Linked DNA regions of Homo sapiens: region 2 is reported to be linked to region 1. The links are microRNA targets in miRTarBase. Many come from high-throughput screens and were not tested one by one. Region 1 holds a microRNA gene; the other region holds the end of a gene's coding sequence. Distances are from middle to middle.
What was found. Region 1 holds the annotated microRNA hsa-miR-4418 (CACUGCAGGACUCAGCAG, at 1,681-1,698, opposite strand). A microRNA usually pairs through its seed, bases 2 to 8, with sites in the 3' UTR of a target mRNA and lowers its output. Matches are read on the target gene's strand: a 7mer-m8 pairs with bases 2 to 8, a 7mer-A1 pairs with bases 2 to 7 and ends in A, and an 8mer does both.

Region 1 (3,278 bases):
ACCCTGCTGCCCTGGGCCAGCTGAGAACCCCCTGCGCCCCCCCTCCCCTGCAGCCCCCAGGTGCGGAGGAGGGATCTCTCCAAGGGAGCGAGACGATCAAAAGGAGGTGCCTGTAAATCACCACGGAGCCTCCCTCTCTGCTTTCCATGCACCGGGGAGCCTTCCCAGAGCTCAGATGTGGTTCAAGGACCCCTCGGAGATCCCAGCCTGACGTGGCTCCCTCCAGCCACGGTTCAGCCCCCTCGGCCAGGGAGGAGGGTGGGTAGGGGCAGGGGAGGCCTTCCACTAGACTCAGGTTTTTGCCACACAGGTCTGACTTCCCACTCCCACCCCAACAACGCACACACACACACACGCATGCACACACACGCATGCACACACACACATGCACACACACACGCACACACTCAGGCCCAGCGATGCACACGCCACACAGCTGGGGGCCAGCCACCCAACACCTTCCATTGGGCGGGAGGTCCAGCTTTGACCACCTGCAGCATCCCTGCCCAAACTAAGGCCATCTCAAAGGGTCAGTATGCCTAGGGCCATGTGCTCCTGGAAATTGTCCGGCCACACCTTCTCCCCAGAAGCCAACATTTGCTTTAGAAAAATTGGACTGATGCTTGAACCGGGAGGCGGAGCTTGCCATGAGCCAAGATGGCGCCACTGCACTCCAGCCTGGGTGACAGAGCAAGACTCCATCTCAAAAAAAAAAAAAAAAAGAAAAGAAAAATCGGATTGAAATGAACACCCAGGGCCCTGTTGCAGGGGGAATGGGGGATGCCATGAGGCTGCACCACGGCAGTCCTTACACCCCTGGGCAGAGGTTCCTGGACAGGTGAGTCAGTCTTCAGACCCCAACTCCTTCCGCCTACCTGGAGCTTCCTGTGCAGCGGCAGCTTGAAGCTGTGGGGAGCATGGTTAGAAGTCAGTTCCAATGACAGCTTCACCCTTTCCTTGTGGCCTTGGGCAAGTCACTTGGCCTCTTTGATGAGCTCCAGGTTCCCCGTTTATCAAGTTTATCAACCGTAGAGGGACCAGGCACATAGTAAATACCCCTCTCCTAAGCCCTGCCAGGGGCCACCATAGCTCATGGTCAATATGAATAATAAGGGGGCTGTGTGTCATCTCAGTCCCACACAGGCACCATCTCATTCAACCCTCACAAGCAGCCCGCCTGGGAGATACTCCTATTATCTCCACTTTACAGATGAGACGATGGGGCTCAGGGTGGTTAAGAACTTGTCCAAGGTCACAGGAAGATGCAAGCCAAGGTCTGTCTGATGCCAACACCCAGGTGCCCTGAATCAACTGCTGGCACTGCCCCTTAGTTCGGCTCGGCCCCACCTCAGCTGACCCCTGGGGCCTCTCCTAAGGCTCTAGAGGGGAGGGGCGTTGAAGCTTTGCACACACAAGAAGCCACACAGCCAAGCAAATGAGCGATGTGGCTCCCAGGGGAACTGGGCTCATGCCCCTGGACTGCTAATGGCCCCCAGGTTTACATCTTCCACTCCAGGCTTGGGTCATCAAATCCCTGACGTCCCACTCAACTTATCTGAGATGGGGCCTCCCCCGCCTCCCCTGCTCTGCCCTCTGTTCCCAAGCCACCACCACGTCTCAGTGGGTTCTGGCGACAGCCTCCTCACTGGTCCCCCACCTCCCACTTACTATCCAGAATTCCTGCTGAGTCCTGCAGTGACTCCCACAACCACCACGGTCACTCAGAGCAAAAACCAAAGCCCCCAGGAGGCCCCCCAGGCCCCTGGGTGACACAGAGGCTCTGCTGACTCCTCTCCTCCCACCCTCCCCCTCACCTGTCCACTCCAGCCACACTGGCCCCTTTGCCGTCCCTAGAACCCCCCAAGCATGCTCCCACCTAGGGACCTTTGACTAGCTGCGTCCTCAGCCTGGGCACCCTGCCTCCAGAGAATGACATCTCCAGCCTCTCATCCTTCAGGTCTCTGCTCAGGTATCTTCTCAGTGGCCCTCCCTGAGAGGCCATGTAACACAGCCCTCCTTTTCCCCTCACGCTGCTGAATTTCGTTCCCTAGCATGCGTCACTATGTGCCATATTACTAATGGCTTGTCTGTTTAATGTCTACCTCATCACAGAGGACACACGCTTCTATGAAAGTAGAAGCCTCTCCCGCCTTCTTATCTCCCGTTCATGCTTGGAGCCTAGAACAGTGCCTGGCACAAAGCAGACCCTCGAGAAACATTTTTTGAAGGAATGAATGAAGGAATGTTGGCATAGTGGTGGGGCTGAGGATTGGGAAGGAAGGGTGGAGAGAAGCAGGAAAGGGAAATGTATGGAAGCAGACATGAAAAAGCTGCGCAGAAGTGTGCATGTGTGTGCAGGGGTGGACACGACACACACACGCACACACACACAGGTGTCAGTACGGTAACCATGGATGAATCGCGAGGCCAACAGGCAGAGACACAAATGCACTATCTACTAACAAACACAGACGCACACCACACAGATACGCTCACACACAAATACACACACACATGCACATCCCCAGATATACACATACGTCCTCATACATGCATCCCCAAATATACACATACATGCACATACACCCTGGCGCGCACACACACACACACACACACACACACACACACACACACACACAGAGCTCCTTACCAGAACTCTGCTCTGGCCCCACATCCCCCTCACCCCAACTCTACACCCGGCTCCCAGGCAGGGAAGGAGCTTTTCCAGGTGACCTCACTGAGCGGGAGTTAAACTCCACCAGCTCTTTTTCAAAGCGGATTTGGCTCCAGTCTCCCTTGTAATCTGCTCCTGGATCAGTGCTCACAGGGGCGCTGGCCCTGGCCTAAGGTCAGGACCTCTCACCTTCTCCCAGGAAGTCCCACTGAGTCCTCCCCCACCCCCAGACCCCCAATCAGCTGCTTCCCCTGACCAGTATAACCTGCTGAGCTGAATTCTTGCTGGGTATTTTCAAACAATTCCAGTTATTTGGGGGGAGGGGTGGTACTGTGATCCCCAGGAGGGGTTTGGTATGGGGGTGGGGGCTAGGGAGCAGAGGGGATGCCCGTCAGGGTGGGACAGCCTCTAAGTTGCCTGTGCTGCAACAGCGACCTGGCCCCACCCCACTCTCTTTTTCAGCCTCTTCCAGCCCGACTCCAGCCTCTGTTTCCCGAAAACATGCCACCTTTCAAACCTCCAGGCCTTTCCACTTGCAGGGCCGTCTGCGCTTACTTCCCCAGTGAGTAAACTCCTCCACATCCTTCAAAGCCTCAGTCCGATG
Region 2 (3,278 bases), 1.7 Mb from region 1:
ATGGGCAAACATTTTATGATGGAACCATCCTAAACCAATTGTTTTTATTTTAAAATAGATTATGTAGATTTGTGGGTAAGCTCATTTTTCTTAGGGAAGGTATAACAATAAAGGTTGTGCATATATTGAAGTCTGAACGGCTTGCTTTTTTGAGTTTAAAGCAGCTGAATAGCCTGTTATTGAGTCTTGTCCAAAATATCTGGAGTTATAAGTTGGAGCCATAGAAGCTTCTTAAAGATTTTGAACTTTTCTTAATGGAATTTTACTCAATATTTGTTTCCATTCACTTGTAGGTGACAAAGAAGCTGAAGATGGGTGGTGGAGAGAGGTATAACATTCCAGCCCCTCAATCTAGAAATGTTAGTAAGAACCAACAACAGCTTAACAGACAGAAGACCAAGGAACAGAATTCCCAGATGAAGATTGTTCATAAGAAAAAAGAAAGAGGACATGGTTATAACTCATCAGCAGCTGCCTGGCAGGCCATGCAAAATGGGGGGAAGAACAAAAATTTTCCAAATAATCAAAGTTGGAATTCTAGCTTATCAGGTCCCAGGTTACTTTTTAAATCTCAAGCTAATCAGAACTATGCTGGTGCCAAATTTAGTGAGCCGCCATCACCAAGTGTTCTTCCCAAACCACCAAGCCACTGGGTCCCTGTTTCCTTTAATCCTTCAGATAAGGAAATAATGACATTTCAACTTAAAACCTTACTTAAAGTACAGGTATAAAATAAGACAAATGTTTAAATTTAGTTATGTTCACGGATAGTTGTCAATTGGTCTGAAACAAATTCGCTAGGGAATCTATTTGTGTAGAACTAATTAATGTAAAAAAAATAGACCATCTCGTGTTGTGTGCACTGTGATATAATGGTAGTATCAGTGCAACTTAAACTAATGATTGTACTTGATATTAAGTGTTCTCAACTGAGTAACTTTTAAGTGGAAACCAAGTTTAGATTTGGGGAGTGGTAAAGGAATCAGCTTTTTCTATTGTTAGGGGAAGACAGTAATTTATCATTCATGGACCAGTAGATTGTTGAAAGTTGGTGAATCGGATTATAAGCTTCTAGCTAACACAAGGATTCAGAATTAGGTAAACATCTGAAGGTTTAGTATATTAGAAACACCCAAACCAGTAATATGCTAACCTGATGCACTGCTGAAAGAAAATGTGAATTTTTCGTAATAATTGCATTTTAGTGAATTGTACAGTGGGTGGAAAGGGCATTTGGAGCTCATTAGAATGAGACATAGTACACCCCAATGGCCCTGTTTATTAAATGTAGTGGATTAAGTGTCTGTCAACAAATACACCAAAACCATTTTTTATAGAAACAGTATTTAATGGTCACTCAATAGCTTTCAAAATACATTTTTGTATTACAGCACTGCACAAGCTATTCTAATAGTGCTCTGGCCTCATCATTCCTGCAAAGCTTGCTTTGGGGAGTTGGATAATGTGAAAATTTTAAGTACCTAGGGGAGAAAGAGCCATGTAAATATCTGTAATAAACTTGTAGCATATGTAAAGTTTTCTTGGCCTTTATCTTACAAAAATGGAGTATTTTAGTATGAATTTGCTGAATGTAAGACCGTGGACTGTTTTTTATAATATGGCCTAATTTTAAAGGTCCAAAATAACTTGTTTTTAAAGTTTGCCCTTGTGCTAAAGTGCCAGTGTATGTATGTTATACTTGATTTGGTTGTAAACTATATTTCAAAGTAAACCCTAGTGTAATAAGTTTTATAACTAAAAAGGTTTAAGCTGCTAAAACTATTTTTAAGAGATGTGAAATGCAGTATGGGACTATCTTTTTTTCCTCCTCTAAGCCCAAAGATTAACTAGAGTCCCTCCAACCTTATAGATTGTTGGCTTTCACAATCTTATAACCTAGGATACAGGTAGTTTCGAGTATGGTGCCAGTGATGTTTTGTTTTTGTTTGGTCAAGGGGTAGGTGCAACCCAATGGACCACTTATGCAAAAGATGTAAACTCTTGCATAATACATTGATAACATGTTTTGCCAACTTTAAATGCTTAAACATAAGCGAAACCAGTAGCAAGTATGTGGGTCAGCTTAAAAATTTTGATTGTTAATGCCCTATTTTCTAATTTGGCACCTCTTGATGCCTAAGCAGGTAAGCAGATGCCTAAGCTGTATTTCTCCAAATAAATCAAGATGAAGTACTGCCCAAGTTAAATATTGATAGCCTAAAGACAAGTTTATGTAGTACTTAATGTACATGATATGAATGTGAAGCATAAAATTAAATAAAATTTTTCCCCATTGGCTTGGTTTTATTTTAAAAATGGTTTTGATTGCTTAATATTCTTTTTAAAAATGTGTTTTACTTGTCACTGACTTGAAGCTCATAATACACTCACAATATTCCAAACTCTTGGATTTCTCAGACTCCAGAACTATGAACCACTACATTTCTGATCATATATATATACGTATATATAAAAAAGGTCACAACTAAAATGTGATAGGACTGTTGGCTTGAAAAGGGGCAACTAGTTTGCTGACTGATACAGAAGATACTAGGATTTGACAGCTATGCAGTTAAGCAACTACTTAGGATTTCTCTCTCCCAGTAGTGTTAATTAAAAAGCAAAAAAAAGGCCACACATGGAAAACATCGCAAAGCTTTTGAAAGTTAATTCCATGATCTAGGTTCATAGAAAAAAAATTATAAGCAAATTTATCAAGTTGACAAGAACCCTTGTGTTTTAAGTATGTTGACAAATGAAAAGTATATAAGGGGACCCCTCAGAAGAAAAGCATCACAACCACACCTTTCTGATACAGATTCCAAATGATAGGGCATCTTAAAACTAGTTTGAGTAATCCTTAAAATGCTACAACTAGTCCCATGGCAAAGCTGTATTATTTTCATGCAAACTAGTTAACAATTTGGAGTTAAGGCAGAACCAGCATTTGGGTGTTCATTTTGTTTCCAGGGTAATTTCTGTGAACAATGCCAAGGATTGCAGAATTGAACTTCATGTATTGGACAAATCTCAGCCTAGGTGTCTGTTAGTTTTTAAGCTATATATTGAATCTAGTGTATATATTGAATACACTAGATTTTTAGTGACTAATCTAGTAATACACTAGATTTTTGGTTTGACTCAAGCAAAATGAGTAAATGGAAGTGGGAGTGGAAGATTACCTAACTTCATACTTTAGGAAAGGTACTGATAAAAGTTTTGGTTAGCCTATATAGAGAATGGTGATAGGAATTTCCCAAGTCGATGCAATTGCGAGA

Region 2: miRTarBase lists PNRC2 as a target of hsa-miR-4418. Seed matches in the 3' UTR shown: 7mer-A1 at 1,801-1,807.

The regions. Positions count from the first base shown.
Region 1 is chr1:22,264,697-22,267,974 of GRCh38, reverse strand. MIR4418 (microRNA 4418) reads right to left here and starts at 1,736; the gene lies at 1,675-1,736. RefSeq lists enhancers at 994-1,513, 2,170-3,052, 3,053-3,278.
Region 2 is chr1:23,961,147-23,964,424 of GRCh38, forward strand. It overlaps PNRC2 (proline rich nuclear receptor coactivator 2), which reads left to right. Exons shown (of 3, transcript NM_017761.4): 3 at 294-2,316. The coding sequence starts at 312. The coding sequence ends at 731. It overlaps SRSF10 (serine and arginine rich splicing factor 10), which reads right to left. Exons shown (of 6, transcript NM_054016.4): 6 at 3,201-3,278. Among named protein-coding and RNA genes, the nearest start is that of PNRC2, 3.0 kb to the left of the region's middle.